Regions from separate parts of the Homo sapiens genome. Here all the other regions are reported to be linked to region 1. The links are microRNA targets in miRTarBase. Many come from high-throughput screens and were not tested one by one. Region 1 holds a microRNA gene; each other region holds the end of a gene's coding sequence.

Evidence for each region. Region 1 holds the annotated microRNA hsa-miR-320c (AAAAGCUGGGUUGAGAGGGU, at 1,729-1,748, shown strand). A microRNA usually pairs through its seed, bases 2 to 8, with sites in the 3' UTR of a target mRNA and lowers its output. Matches are read on the target gene's strand: a 7mer-m8 pairs with bases 2 to 8, a 7mer-A1 pairs with bases 2 to 7 and ends in A, and an 8mer does both.
Region 2: miRTarBase lists AIMP1 as a target of hsa-miR-320c. Seed matches in the 3' UTR shown: 7mer-m8 at 723-729.
Region 3: the mRNA of ARL3 is a reported target of hsa-miR-320c. Seed matches in the 3' UTR shown: 7mer-m8 at 2,287-2,293 and 8mer at 1,671-1,678.
Region 4: miRTarBase lists SMARCC1 as a target of hsa-miR-320c. Seed matches in the 3' UTR shown: 7mer-A1 at 1,246-1,252 and 7mer-m8 at 105-111.
Region 5: the mRNA of SCRN1 is a reported target of hsa-miR-320c. The part of its 3' UTR that is shown has no 7-base or 8-base seed match.

What each region holds. Positions count from the first base shown.
Region 1 is chr18:24,319,988-24,322,987 of GRCh38, forward strand. It overlaps MIR320C2 (microRNA 320c-2), which reads left to right and starts at 1,688; the gene lies at 1,688-1,759. All of the region lies in intron 7 of OSBPL1A (oxysterol binding protein like 1A), which reads right to left.
Region 2 is chr4:106,347,232-106,350,443 of GRCh38, forward strand. AIMP1 (aminoacyl tRNA synthetase complex interacting multifunctional protein 1) reads left to right here. Exons shown (of 7, transcript NM_001142416.2): 7 at 295-2,225. The coding sequence ends at 461. Among named protein-coding and RNA genes, the nearest start is that of GIMD1, 20 kb to the right of the region's middle.
Region 3 is chr10:102,674,224-102,677,435 of GRCh38, forward strand. It overlaps ARL3 (ARF like GTPase 3), which reads right to left. Exons shown (of 6, transcript NM_004311.4): 6 at 1-2,718. The coding sequence ends at 2,671. Among named protein-coding and RNA genes, the nearest start is that of TRIM8, 31 kb to the left of the region's middle. RefSeq lists an enhancer at 1-131.
Region 4 is chr3:47,585,410-47,588,409 of GRCh38, forward strand. It overlaps SMARCC1 (SWI/SNF related BAF chromatin remodeling complex subunit C1), which reads right to left. Exons shown (of 28, transcript NM_003074.4): 28 at 1-2,897. The coding sequence ends at 2,800. Among named protein-coding and RNA genes, the nearest start is that of CSPG5, 8.0 kb to the left of the region's middle.
Region 5 is chr7:29,920,939-29,924,150 of GRCh38, reverse strand. SCRN1 (secernin 1) reads left to right here. Exons shown (of 8, transcript NM_014766.5): 8 at 36-3,212. The coding sequence ends at 194. Among named protein-coding and RNA genes, the nearest start is that of FKBP14-AS1, 66 kb to the left of the region's middle.

The sequences.
Region 1 (3,000 bases):
AAAAAAAAAAAATTTAATTAGCCAGGCACGGTGGCATGTGCCTACAGTCCCAGCTACCACTGCACTCCAGACTGGGTGACAGAGTGAGACTCTGTCTCTAAAAACAAAAAGGGGGGCTGGGGGTGGTTTAAAATAATAATATTTTTATAAATACCAAACATCTGGTATGTGTTGGCAATTTTTTTGTATGATATCCCCTAATGAGGGTCTGTTATGTACCGATTACTATTTTAGGCACTGAGGATTCAGCAGTGAACATAACAGAAAAAATACTGGGGGGATGGGAAAGCATAGAAGGTGGGAAAGACAGATGATAAATTAATTCTTAAAGATACAGCAGACAATGAACCACGGTACGCCCAGACTTTTTAAATAAATGATTTGACAGAGTAACTGGGATACCACTTTAGATTGGAGGATGAGGGGTTGATCAGGGAAGGCCTCTTTGAGGAAGGGATGTCTAGGTTGAAAAGAAGGATCCAGCCTTGTGAAAATACAGGGAAGGACATTCTAGCAGAGGAACAGCTGATGCAAAGGCTCTGAGGTAGGAACAATTCAGCAGGCAAGAGATAAAGTCAGAGAGGCACGCAGAGGCCACATCACACAAGGGGTTTGTAGGCCAGACTTTTGTAAGCCAGCATAAGGAGTTTGAGTTTTATTCTAAATAGGATGAAAAGCCACTGAAGGGTTTTAAGTAAGAGTAACATGATCTGACTCATGTTTAAAACTCTGTCAAAGTGTTAAAAAATTATAATATAGGCCGGGTGCAGTGACGCATGCCTGTAATCCCAGCACTTTGGGAGGCCGAGGTGGGCAGATCACCTTAGGTCAGGAGTTCGAGACCAGCCTGGCCAACATGGTGAAACCCCCATCTCTACTAAAAATACAAAAATTAGCTGGGTGTGGTGGCAGGCACCTGTAATCCCAGCTACTCTGGAGACTGAGGCAGGAGAATCACTTGAACCTGAGAGGCGGAGTTGCAGTGAGCTGAGATCGCGCCATTGCACTCCAGCCTGGGGAACAAGAGCAAGACTTCGTCTCAAAAAAAAAAAAAAAAAGAAAAGAAAAGAATAATAATAATAACTGGGAAAACACAAACTTTGGCAGTTCCATGATTTTGATAAATTACTAGAATATTATTAATAGGATAATGCTATTGTGCTTATGTTTTTTAATAGCCCCATTGAGATACAAATTAACATACAATTTACTCACTTAAACTGCACAAATTCAATGGTTTTTATAGGTGCACAGAGTTGTGCAACTATCACATGCTTGTGGTTTTTGTTAAAGGGTGTCCTTATTTTTTACTAATATACTGGACTACAGATGTTCCCCAACTTACAACAGTTCAACTTAATGGTTTTTCAACTATCACAGCTCACCACAGCCTCGACCTCTTGGGCTCAAGTGATCCTCTCACCTCAGCCTCCCTGGTAGCTGGAACTGCAGTCATGTGTCATCACACCTGGCTAATTTTTGTATTTTTTTGTAGGAATGGGGTTTCACCAGGTTAGTCTCAAATTCCTAGGCTCAAGCGATCTGCCAGCCTCAGCATCCCAGAGTGCTGGGATTACAGGTGTGAGCTACTGTACCTGGCCTTAAGTGTATTTTCAATTTACAATGGTTCTATGAGGACGTGGCCCCACAGTAAGTTGAGGAGCACTGGGTATGTATGAATAAAATGGCATGACAGGCCTTCTCTTTCCAGTTCTTCCCAGAATTGGGAAAAGCTGGGTTGAGAGGGTAAGAAAAGAAAAACAAATAAATTTTTTAAAAAGAAAAAGAGATGGCATGATATCTGGAATTGTTTCACAAGAATTCAGGGAGTAGGAAGAGATACAGAGTGGCCATTATTGCTAAGTTCTGGAGGAGGGTGATGGGTACATCAATTAATTATGCTATTTGATTTCTGAAGCTTTGATAATTTCCATGATTTTTTTTAAAAAGGTCACTCTGGCTGTTGTGTGCAATATGGCTTGTAAACGTGGGCAAAAGAAATGCAGGGAGGCTAATTACAAAGAGATGGCAATAGTGCAGGTAAAGGATACTGGTGGTTTGGACTAGAAAGTCAGTAGTAAAATGGAGATCATTTTTAACATAGAGAGAAATATGTGACTTTTTTTTTTTTTTTTTTTTTGAGACAGAGTTTCCCTCTGTTGCCCAGGCTGGAGTGCAGTGGCACCATCTCAGCTCACTGCAAGCTCTGCCTCCCGGGTTCATGCTATTCTCCTGCCTCAGCCTCCTGAGTAGCTGGGACTACAGGCGCCCACCATCACGCCCGGCTAATTTTTTGTATTTGTTTTTTTTTTTTTAGTAGAGATGGGGTTTCACTGTGTTAGCCAGGATGGTCTCGATCTCCTGACCTCGTGATCTGCCCGCCTGGGCCTCCCAAAGTGTTGGGATTACAGGTGTGAGCCACCGTGCCCGGCCTTGTATGTGGCTTTAAGATTTATTTTGGAGGAAGATTTATAGAGCTGCTGATGGGGAACCTGGGGCTGGTGATACATTACTTCTTTAGTGGGGAAAAAACTTTTTAAAACATTAACCAAAAAATTAATACTCAGTTTAGTTTTTCTGCCTAGCACATAGGAAAATGCCTTATAGAGGTCTGCCAATTCTGTGTTATTTTCATTCTACCTACAGGGCACTTTGGAGAAATTATTTCTTTAGGCAGAGAGAAAGACAACACTATGATTTCTTTCATAGAATTCTGCCCTAATACCAAAAATAAATTCTGAACTCCTGCCAACTAGATGAAATTCCAGAAGAGAGACCTCATTTCTGGATTTGATGTCTAAAATGCCTGGCACACAGTAAGAATTCAATAAAATGCTTTTGAACTAAATGAAATAGCCTCCTAGATGGAATCTAGATGGGTTCCACCACCAGTTAAAAAATACACTATCTCTCTTACCAACCACAACAAAATAAAGTGAAAAACAGGAATGATGTAATATTTAAAAGTTTGCATGACACAGATTTGTCCCTTAATGGGAA
Region 2 (3,212 bases), not on the chromosome of region 1:
ATTTTATTATTTTGATAATTTGGATACAATTCATTAAGCTTTATTACTTATAAAATATAAGAGTAAAATATGATATCTTTAATATACATAAAGAAACAACAACGATTTTATTTTACCAATCAAGAATATAAACTGCTGACATAATAAAAATAAAGTAAATGTTAAAAGTTTGATTAGGTCCAAAAATCAGAAAATGTTGCCAAAACAATTCACTGGAAATCTCTGTGAATAGTCTCTTTAATATTTTTGTATATTAGCTGTGTAATTTTCTTGTGCTTTTTTTCTCCTACACAGGAGAGCCTGACAAGGAGCTGAATCCTAAGAAGAAGATTTGGGAGCAGATCCAGCCTGATCTTCACACTAATGATGAGTGTGTGGCTACATACAAAGGAGTTCCCTTTGAGGTGAAAGGGAAGGGAGTATGTAGGGCTCAAACCATGAGCAACAGTGGAATCAAATAAAATGCTTCCACTACCAAAAGACATTAGAGAAAACCTTAAAAGTAATAAAGAGAAATATATTTGTCACTTATACCTAAAATATGAGTGGCTCATTTTTGCATTACTCTCTTCTAGACTTGACTAGTCATTTACTTGGTATATATTGTTTTCATTGATTGGGGAAACACTAGATTTTTACCTCGGTTTTTGATCATTTATAATGGAGAGAGGAAGTTGCCTATGTTTTGTAATAATTTATTTTTTAGCAGGAATATTGATTAGCAGCTTTTTTTTCTTTATACACATAGATAACTAACTAGATTAATGTTTAGTTTCTTATTTGTAGGCACAGGATGCATGAAATTTCAAGCTCTGGGATTTTTTGTATATTGTGTATCTGTATCAAAAATATCCTCTCCTTTTCAAAAATGACAGGTTGGAAAATGTTTGTCAGACTTATTAACTGGTCATATTATAATAATACTGATAATGACCAACTGCTCATTCTGAAAGCCAAACATAAAAGCTAGGAGAAGTGGCATCTGAACATTTTTGCTTTGCTGCCAGAGTAACCCTGACTAATAATACAATAACAGCAATTTTTTTAAAAAACTGAGATTTCCTACTGGCTTGAAGTTTTTCTATTTAGCAAAATAATTAGTAATAAGTTTTGACTAGGTCTAAAGAATGAACACATTGTAAACAGTTGCCACAGTAGTTTCTAATAAATTGATCATAAAAGCAGCTATCCTTTTTTTTTTTAATTCTAGCTTCTTTTTAAAGATTATTTGGGTACCTAATAAAGGATAATTTATATCTTATTACAGACTGATATTTTGCTTTTTCATGTGTCATCATACTGTCAGTATATTAAAAGAAATTACAGCCTAAAACTTAACATATACCATACATATATATTAAGGTGTCAAATAGCTATTCTCACTCATCTTACAAATATTGTAAGAGCAATAAAAATTAATTGAGGAATTATAAGCCTACAGGTCATCAGCCTTGAGGTGATTACTGATGATTTGGGCTTACACACATGTCAGCAAGATAGGGAGTGTGGATAGGGGAGGGCTGGTAGCTAACAAGGGGCCTCACAGAGAAATATTAGTGACTTTAACCAGGTTTCAGAATCTGGGCCTTACCTTTACAGGTTCAACAAAAGAATGGCATCAATAGAGGCAGAAGTATAGACATTGTTTTAAAAATACACACATGCACACACACACAAAACATTTTAGCATTATAGCTGTCTGAATCCTTCAATAAGAAGGAGAGGCACACACAAATACACACACTCACACAAAACTCAACAACCATAAAACAACCCTGCATGTTATAAAAGGCAGAATTAAATTTTATTTATTTAAATCCATGGAACTCTGGTAGGCCAGGATATATTATAGTACCATTATCAATGTGATATTCTGAAAATATGAACTGAGCGTCATTAACAATTGTTGGTACCTAAACACAAAATGAATTTCAAAAGTTACTTTGTTCTCAAGATATGTCATTCTTTTGGGAATAAATACTTCTGGTGACAAAGTCTTTTGTGAGTTTTTTGCTCTAATTTTTCTCAATTATATTAAATTTCTTTAATATAATTTAAATAATATTTCAACTACCTAGGTAGTTGAAATTTTCCCAACTAAATGTTGAAATACTGTACCCCAGATCAAATTATCTAATGTTTTGTTAGTGAAACCTAAACTGATGATTAAATCGTTCATCAAACCTAGAGATAATAAAAACTATTGGTCTTTTGTTAAAAGCCCATAATGTAGCATCATCAGTAGCTCATTTGTGCTGAAATTTATGACGACTTACTACAAAAGAGTACATTCCAAAAATGTCACATTTGTCTTTCTCAAGTACTATATTATGCCTTACCAAATTATAACAAATGTCCATGCTTCCCTCCATAATTCCCACAGGTCTTTACCATGTAAAAATCCATGCTAAAGAGTGCTAAAGAGAGAAAGAAGTGGAGAATTAATCAGTGATTTTTCAAGTTGTATGAAAGCATTGACCAAGTTATCCATTCAGCCCTATTCAGTACTTGTTTTCACAGAAAACTTAATTCTGTTTTATTTGTATTGCTGGGATGGGAGAGCTCTTACGGAATCAACAAAGAAATAGCATTGTTGGCAAACTGGACATAACACTTCAGCATCTGATGTATTCTGGTTTTTAAGGATTTCAACGATAGGGGGTAGTGTTTGGTGGGAGGATCACTTTGAGCCCAGGAGAGCAAGGCTGCAGTGTGCTGTGATTGCACCACTGCACTCCAAACTAGGCTACAGAGTTGAGACCCTGTCTCAAAAAAAAAAAAAAAAAAAAAAAAAAAAAAAAAAAAAAAAAAAAATCTTAGTTGGGGAGCACCTCGCTGTTTCTTATAACTGGGCATTAAAATGGCCTGAGTATACCTCCTCAATTTTTCAGAGAAATGATACGTCCTTTTAAAATATAAAAGTATCAGAAGTATATAACATTAGCCATGTATTTCACCTACATAAATAGTGACACAAGTCCTGATTCTAAGTGCTATCCAGCAGTATGAAAATTACAACTTTATCACCAAGATGCAAAATAAAAAGAACTAGGAAGGGCAAATTAGTATGCTCAACAGGCAATAATGTTGCAAATTGCTGTCTCATGGAGAAAGCTCTACCCTCCAAAATTTTAGTTAAGGAATAATCATGCCTTCTCTAACAAATGTAAGGGTGATATATTAATAATACATGTCTACTGTCATGGATTTTA
Region 3 (3,212 bases), not on the chromosome of region 1:
CCTGGCACATTTCTAACCGCCGGCATAATCGCTGACTTTCAGCTGTGCACCGACATGTTCCCCAGCTCAGCCCACATCAATGACACCCTTGTTTCCATAGTAACCAAGGGAGAGTGAAGGGGAAAGGGTGTGTTGCACTGGGTGCAGGGAATCCAGCCAAAAGCAGCCACACGGGGTAGGTCGGGAGGAGGGGAGGACTCGAGTTTTTCCCACAACTGGCTTGAGCACATATCACGAGCACCCCCCAGGCCTTGCCTGCCCTCCGGCCCCCAGCCCTCTCCCCCGCACATTCAGATGCAATTGTGCGCAGGGCAAAAGTCTCGCTAAGACTCACTGGGGACAGGAGGAGGGGAAAAGGGGTCTTCCCTTTCCAGCTTCAAATTCTGTCTTCTGGTCAGGGGGCAGGAGTGGGCAGGGAAGAGGCAAGAGGGCTTTAAAAAGTATTTTGTTTTTAAATGGGAGCTTTCAAACTCTGCCTTTTTCAGGCTTCTCTCATCTACCCCAGAGCCCCAGGAGGGTTCAAAAGGGCTCAAAGGGAAGATGAAAGCGTGTGACATCTGCAGTGTCTCTGTGTCTCTGCAGCTGAGAGCAAATCAGAACATTTACAGAGGCCGTTATCAGAGGAGTGGCTTCTGCCTGCTAGGAGAGGCCTTGGGATGGCTCTTTAAAACAGTCCCCTAAGTTGGTGGTAAAAGAACAAAAATATTTTACAGACCCTCCAATGCCAAAGTTCCATACTGCAGTGTTCCAAAATTGCAGACCTCCAAGCAGGCATTTTGCCCCTCAGATAACTTGTCCCTGCTGAACTATTCGGAAGAAAAAACAATTTGCAAGTGCTAGAGCCACATTTGCAGCCTGGTAGAAGGGGGATTTCTGATTCCTTATAATTCTGTGTTGCCTCTGTAAGGGAGAGCTTGGGTGAGCCAGAGAAGCCAGTGGAGGAGGCTGCAGAGAGCAGCTAGCTCTGAGGTTAAAAAAACCCCTCACTTTCTTTTGTTTTGCAAGTCCTTACAGGTCTGTCCACAGCAACTCTGGGGCACCTTTTCACGGCTGGCTTTGTTAATGACTTTCATGTCAGATCGCTTTTGAAGCTGGCTATGCCTCAGTCTCTGCTGCACTCTTAGCCAGAAGCAGCTGGGTATTGAGGGCCAGGGGCTGCAGCGGCCCCTTCAGTCTGCTCACACGCCCTGATGGGCTTGGGAAGGGCCACCTCCCAGGATGAGAAGGCAGCTGGCCCCCAGGGACCCACCAGTCACTGGACAGTCTCTTATTCATTCTCTGAAAACCCCTGAGCTCAGGCACCAGAACAGAGTTTAATTCAGGAGCCGGGCAATGCTCTGGCCTGTTTCCCCATGTTTGAAGCTGAGGATTTCTGAGGTTCAGGGAAACAAGCTCGTTTTGCAACGAGGGGCAGGAGAAATGTTCTGCTATTCCTCTCCAATCAATCAACAGAGGACGGACATTCTGCTGCAGAGAGGCAGAGGAGCCCAGCAGCTGGGGTGACTCTTGATTCCTTGGACACGACCCCTGCAGTCACACACACACCCATGTCCTCCCCAGCAGCAAACCCTCTCCATCCAGGAGCATCCCACACCACCAAGTTGCCAGCACTGTAAAAATTGATCTAAAAATCGATCTGCCTGGCTTTTCTCAGTGGAGCAGGTTCATGGTAAAGCTGCATTTATTTCTAAAATCTGATAGCAGCGGCCTATTGTGATCGTTTAAACACAGAATTCTTTGAGCTTTAGAAATCCTGTCTATAGGACGGCCGTGGAGAAGCCAGCTAATCTCAGAGTCGGCTGCTCACTGCTCCACTGAGCTGGAGAAAGCCTGTTTACGCTAGCCTGAGCCCTCGATGTGAGAGCTTTTTAAGGACCTTGTAATTTTTCTGGAATTAAACCTCCCACCTCTCCTTACATTCCAGATGTCATTACAGTCAAAAGTCATAAGAATTTGCTTCTCTGTGTGGCTGGCTGGGGCAGAGGCAGGGGTGGGTGGGATGGGGTATGTTTCTGTAGTGACTTGTCTGCAAGAAAGACTTTTTTTTTTTTTTCTGTCCAAAGAGTGAGGATTACATACGTAGTCTCCGACCTGCAAGACGATGAGATGGTTTAATTATCTGCCTTTTCTCCCCCCACCCCCACCCAGCAGCTTCCTGTCGGACAGACTGAAGCCTGGCTGGGCTAGTGACGGTAAAAATCACTGACAGCACCAGCAAACACTGTCTGTGGTTTCAAAACCATGGAGGGAATGCAAGGGACGGGTCAGTAAATAAATGAACTCAGCAAAGCTGCTTCTTCCTCTTTTTCTTTTTCTTTTTTTTTTTTTGAGAGGAAAAAAAAGCCCACTGGAATTGTCTAAACTGCAATGCAATCTCTTGCTCATTTAAAAGATCTCATTTTCTAATCATGTGCTTTGAGACATTTAATACTATTTCAATTATGCAGAGGAAATAATATAATTCCTTTATTTGAAAAATGATACTGAACCTCAGAGATCAGTTAAATCTACTGCTGGAATGGGGATTCTTTCTAAACCGTGTTGTTCCCTCTCTTCAAACAGCTGGAGCTGTACACAGATGGAAAAACATTTGGTCAGAAAGCAGCAAATTAGTGTTTTTCAGGACCGAATTCGGCTCCCGCAGCTCCTGCATCTCCATTCGTCTAGATTTTATTTCTTCTTTGCATTGACATTTTTGCAGACCCAGTTCATGCCATCCTTTGAGGGAAATGGGCAGAGAAAGGCAGTGTTAGTTATAAGAAAAGCACCACACACTCTAGCCTGGAGGGGCGGGCAGTGGGGGTCCCAGGCCCTCCCTCCCAGACCGCCAGCTTTAGGGAGTTTGCTTGGCTCAGGGGCCCACCTGGGTGACCAGGGACAGTGACCTCCCAGGAGGAGGAGGAGGGAGGTCTCTGAGAGCACAAGAGGGCGATGGGAGGGGGATGCCCAGCGCCTGAACTTGAGATGGGTCCTCAGGAACTCCCTCTGAAAAAATAAACACATCTGCCTGCATCCAAAGCCTGACTGAAGAGCTATCAGGAAAGATTCCAGCCATTTTTGGCTTTTTCTAAAAGGTGACCTTTGCCAGGGCATTAAATTCAATAAGCCACCCTTTTGGTGCCCCATGTGTTTACAGTGTGACAGTGTACACTTGGGTTAAATTAAATTTCTTTTTGGAAAAACAAACCTACTGCAGTGAGTGTTGCGAGGCA
Region 4 (3,000 bases), not on the chromosome of region 1:
ATGGCAGACACAGAATCCTCTTCTTTTGCTTCACTCGATTTATAAGCATCCTGAAAACAATCACTTCTTTTTTTCTGCACAGGGTTTATATCTGTGAGTACCCAAAAGCTGTCCCCCAAGGTTCACAGAATCTTCTGCCCTCAAGGCCTGCCTCCAACTTGGGACTGTCTAAACTGCATCCTGACAAACATTATCCCATTCACCAAGCAAAGCTATTTCTCACACCTGGAGGTGCCAGGATGTTGGCCATCATTTTTGGAGAACTTCCACTCATTTTCACTTTGACCATGCAAATGAACAGTGGGTGAGGTACCCTCAAAATGTATGTTCCTTACACATCATGAAGGTGGGCAGTCGGGAAGGAAGCCCGAGTCACAGAATTTTAACTGCTGATCAAACCAAGACCAGGTGGGGCCAAATGTTTAGGTTCTTCATAGGATATATGAAGAAACTGGTGTATGAATGCAGAGAATGGGACTAGAATCCAGAAATGGTGTTCCATTTATTCACTGAAAAAGAGAGAGATTAGGCCTTCTTCATTCATTTTCTCCATTCTTGCCAAACTCCCTCCCCTCATTTTTTCCAAAATAACAACACACTGAGAAACATGTTTGTACAAAAACCACATATTATTCCCCCCCCTCACAAAATCAGGTGGCTGAATTACAGGAATAAAACCAGATCAAAGACATGAAAAGAAAAAGCCACCACTTATACTGAAATATAACAGTGTTAAGAATTCAGGTATTTTGTAGAATTATTACTATAGTAAAAATATTTCCACCTGGATCTTTTAAATTTGAAAGTGATCACATTAAAGACCTGAGGTTACAAGGGACCACAGTATGAACCAGAATTCCATTTTCCTTCTCGGACTCCAGGGGAAAAAAGAAGTATTTGGAATGAGTTTCCTTTGGGAAAGACTGGCAGGAAGTAGGTAAAACCCTGGCCATTGTCAAAAGGCACTGGGGTCTTTCTGGAGCCAAATGCATTGGAACTAAGCTCCAGTAGGAATAAACTCATTCTCATTTCCACTCCCAAGAGTCCAGAACAAAAACAAAAGGACCAAGGTCTCCTCGGTTCCCGTATTCCAGTACTCTGATGGTGACCAGGGACACCTGGTTAGAGGCAAACCTGAGGGTTTGAAAGGCAAATCTCAATTGTGGTTTTATTTTTTTGCTTTCTGATATTAAGGAAAAAAGTTCTCAAGTGTTTTATAAACACCTCCCTATACCCTCTCATATGTAAAGCTTTAGAAAATATATAGAAAAAGATATCCAAAAGATGTCCACCTTGCATTCTAAATAATGAAACTGCCACTTGAGAATGTGAAGTGAGAAAGCCAGGCGCTTTGGAAACCAAGCTCTACCAAAAACACCCTTTCCCCACACATGGAAGGACAGAAGGGAGGGAAGGACAAGAGGAAAAAACCGGGAACTCTCAAGTCACTTATCAGCAGGGGTAAATACGAGCTCAAATTAAGGCATTTTTGTGGCTTGTCCTCTGGAATGGCATTCTACCCTCCCAGCCTGAGCACCCCAAACCTCAAAGCATGATGCTCTGACTGCCAAGTGAGTTCCTTGTTACCCTCAGCATCTCTTTGAAAACCCTGTGATAGATGGAATGTGAGATCTCAGAAATGGAAGGGAGAAGGTATAAGGAGCTAATATCCTGCTTCACTTTTCCCGTCCCATCCTAACCTTAAAAGTACCGGTTGACGAAATTCCACTCCCTGGCTACTGTAACAAGAGGTAGTTTGGGGACTTGTACCCCCAGCCATCCTAACCAAGTTTCATGAGCTAAAATATTTAGCACTATCTACTTTTTTTTTTCTTTTAAAGGGTTTTTTAAAGAGGGAGAAAAAAATGCACACAAAGCAGTGAATAGTAGGCTAGACTCATTGGGGGTAATTACCCTAGACTCCTAACTTTCCAGGCTAGTTGAGGAAACTAAGGAATGCCTCCCAATATTCCAACCCTCAAAGCTCACACTGCCCCCAGAAAAACAAAACACTCACCCCCAATCCAATGAATCATCTGCATAGAAAACCAGAGCCAGCAGGCCTAGGGAAGGAGCGGATGTTTGTGCCCTCCTCTAGCACATACTAGTTCAGTGGTATGTTCTGCCAGGCAGTGTGGAGGCCCTCAGAGGCCTCACTAGGGAATAAAATCACTGAGGTTCTCCTTCCACATCTCGTTTAATTTTCACAAATTTGTGTGTGGCAAAAGTCTCAAACTTTACCATCAGCACCATTCTTAGCTCAGAAAAGCAGAAATAAGGTCACTTATAATGCCTTAAGGTTTGTCCCCTGTGGCTATTCCCCCCCTTCTGCCCATCATTATTTTTTGGTTCCTATTAACTTAGGATGCTCTCCTTTAAAACAATAATAACAGAAAGATAAAAAGATAATGATTATATAGCATTATCCATAGAAGCATAAGACAAAGCAAAAAACTGCAAGAGAGCAAAAATGGTAAAGACATAGCATGCTAAAGTTGACAGGACCTGCAGAGAAACTGTCAGCTTACTCCCACACCAGGACAGGGGAGATGCAGGTTATTTTAAGGATGACCAGGGCACACTGTCACTACAGGTTTCCCCTTGAGTGTTGGCTGAGGACCCAACACAAAAAGTGTCAGAGAGAGGGGTGGTAAGAGGAGTGGGGAGGCACGGGACACGTGCTTGGAGCTGTGAGAAGAAAAATCCTGAAAGAAACCCAAGAAAGTTGAGGAACACAAGTCTTGTCATCCCCACTCCAGCTCATGGTGGTGGGCGTGGAGGTTCCCTGCATCTTCCAGGCTAAGGAGCAGCTGAGGCTGGCGGGCCAGGAGCAGGAGGCGGAGGGACCCCATCTGCAGGTGGTGGTGGCGGTGGCTGCTGCTGTGGTGGAGGGGGATCTGCAAACATATCCAAGAGTAACTCGTTATTGCTGGAAATACAAGAGACTCAGGAAAGAGCCTATTCAGTGAAAAAAAGACACAGAAGTCCTTTCCTTAGTGG
Region 5 (3,212 bases), not on the chromosome of region 1:
TTGCTGACACCTAAAGCAGTCGTGTCCTTCCTCAGGAGCAAGGTCGCAAGCTGAGGAGCACCATGCTGGAGCTGGAGAAGCAAGGCCTGGAAGCCATGGAAGAAATCCTGACCAGCTCCGAGCCACTGGACCCTGCGGAAGTGGGGGACCTTTTCTATGACTGTGTTGACACGGAGATTAAGTTCTTTAAGTGAAGTAAGCGTTCCCTTTCCCCTTCTTATTTAAGACTTCCCACCTTACTAAATTACCAGCAAAACAAACCACTCTCCTGTTTGAGTAAAATGAGAAAGTTAATATGTGGCCTCCTTTTCTGAAGCCAGATCAAACTGTTACCTTGTGTTCCACCTTGAATCTCACAGCGTCCCCTTCTGCAATGTAGGTCTCCTTCCTGTGCAGTGTAACATGTATCCCGTTGCCTGTTGTTCGGTTGTGTGACTAATTGTGGATTTTAAGCTGCTATTATTGTATTTCAGTGGCAATGGACACATTAGCCTTTTACAAGAGGACTAGAGTTCATCAAGCCTTGAAAGGCAGGCTTCACAGTGCCGAGTTGGCGGGAAAAGCAAATTCTTTTGAAGTCTTAGTCTTTCCCTCAGTAGCGGTTTCTTTCAGGTTAACAAGAGGCATTTGTGCACACACACAGGGCTCTTGTGTGTGTTGTCAAGGGGACCCTCCGTGGCCTCCCGTGAGTGCATGCCTGTAGTGCACAGTGTCTCTACAGGTGTCTTCTGGGGGGCAGAACCAATTGGAAGGAAGAAAGGGACCCCTCTCCAGTCCTGGCTCCTTCCTACATCCTGGGCTCCTGAAGAAGCTGTCTTCCCATTTTCCATGCGCTGTGCTTATGTGTGGTGGACTGCAGAGCTGCTTCCACTTACAGGAGAGCTGATAATTTGTTAGCTGGAACCTATTCACTTCCGAGATTCAGACATAGCCATGCTGGTGGCCTTCTGAATCACTGCATGGATGTCCCAGGAGGCAGCTCTCCCCACACAGCAGCACAGCCATCACAGGATTCCTTGTGTAGAAATGATTCCCAGTCTAGTTACCAACAGCTAGTCTAGGAGTAATTGAATGGCCCTATGGCACAGTTCCACCCACAGAGTAGTGAATCTCTCAGCCAAGGAGGGAAAGAAAAGGAAGAACTCTTGACTATTTAGATTCTAGTTAAATATCTGGAATCCTAGCAGTCACTACATTATCTCAGCAGAGAGACTTTAATTAAACTGATTTGTTTCCAATGTCGGGTTCACTTAAAGGATTTGACTTACCACCAGAGCATAGAAAAGCATGCAAGGAAGACCAGATGGGCTTAGCATTGGGAAGACAGAGGGCAAGGAGGTGATAGATGGATATAGAAGCATTTCTCTGCAGGATACCAGTTCAGGCCCCACCATTCCTGCCAAGGCCATTACATCCCACAAACCCAAATACAAAGCAGCTGACTTCCCTGGATCTTCCCCCCACTCCTCACACCTCACATGTCCCAGGAGCTGCCTTCATTCAGGCGGGTAGCTGCACTGGGCATGGGGTGGTGGTGGGAGCTTACCGCCACCTATTCAAGCTCTCAGCTACTCCTGAAACGGGCAGAGATGATGAACAGAAGTGTATGTAAATACAGCAGCTAGTGGGAGAGCACCAGTTGGGCCTAATCCTGCCTCATCATTCTTGGCAGGAATCTGCAAATGGAAACATTGTGAGTATCAGCAATCTGGGAAGTGACAGGGTTAATAACTCCTTCCCAGAAGCTGTATCATGAGATTTTGAGGGGACCGAGCCCTGTTACATGGATGTGAACAGTGAGGATCAGAGGTTTTATCAGAACACATTCTTTTTTTCTACCAACTCTCCAGAGCGTGAGTATAGGAGTGCCATGAGCTTTTTAGTCAGCAGTTTTGTAAACTCTGTATATAAAATCATTAACCACACATTGTGGGTGATGGGAAGACGATTTCAGCTGACAGAGTTAATGGCAACCAATAATGGTGGCCTGTAGCTGCTAAGAGCTTCACGCAGGTTTGGCCTGGGCTTTCACTGTTGGTGAATTTAGAGTGTCCTTTTAGGTGGGGCGGCTATTCTAAAAGTGTCTTTCTATCACTGTTAAGGGGGGGGGAAAGTGAGGTTCGAGGATGACGTAGGTAACTCTCCCCTCCCAAGTCCATGTTCCAAGTGGCTATGTAAAGCAAGATGATACAGAAAGCTGCTCTAAAATCTCACTGAGTGATTTCACCTTCGCCTACTATGAAATGTCTCATCAGACCTGACATGTCTGAGATAACCAAGGTGATTCAGGATTTGATCAAAAGAAGTCTAGTAAGAATTAATTACACAGAAGCCTCCTTTCATTTCTATGGGCCAAACAAAGGCCATGGATAACCCTACCCGCTTTATGTCATTACCCATTGGGAAACACAATGGCTACTTCTGTTAGGGTACATTGACCTTGGTCAAGCATCTTAAAGAAGGCAACCCTAATTGAGAGCTGTCTTGGCTAATACTCTGCACCACAATTGTGATGTCCTAGTCCTACCACTAGAGGGCATGGTACAGCCTGGCAAAAGTTAAAAGGGGTGTGGCAGCTCCCATCAGGTCTGGAGGTGGTCTATAAGCACAGTTGACAGTTGTGCATTGGGATGGGTGGAGAAAGACGACAAGAGAGCAGAGAATCTGCTGATGTGGCTGCGCTTACTTTTAGTGACTTTATGTACTTATATTAACAGCTGGAAATAGGTTGTTGGGTTTTGAGCAGGCTGTTATAGTGAGGAATGTTCATTTTTAAATGTTCCTAACAGATTTTGCTTTTGAAAAATGCTTGTTACATGAATAATTTGTGGACCAGGGATTGCTTTTCTGAAGGCAGTATAGGGAACATGAATATTCAAGATGAAATACAAAAATTATGTTTAAGGGTCATAGTGTATAAGTAGCTTCCTAGGAAACCCTTTGTGTATCTTTTCAGACTGGGGTGGGGGCTGAGCATGCTTGTGCAGAAAGAAGCCATAGCCAGAAAGGACAGAATCTCTCCCCCACTCCCTTGCCCCATAACCAAACATAAGCTAGCTAGTCTTGTCTAATAGATGGGATTTACTATAGGTGAAGATAGCCCTCATATTCAAGGACAGAAGCTCTGGCAGGAGTAAATTAGCAAAGCAGAAATAGTACCCTTTCATTCTTGGAGGTGCTTTGAAATTTTAGGTAGAATATAATCGAAATTA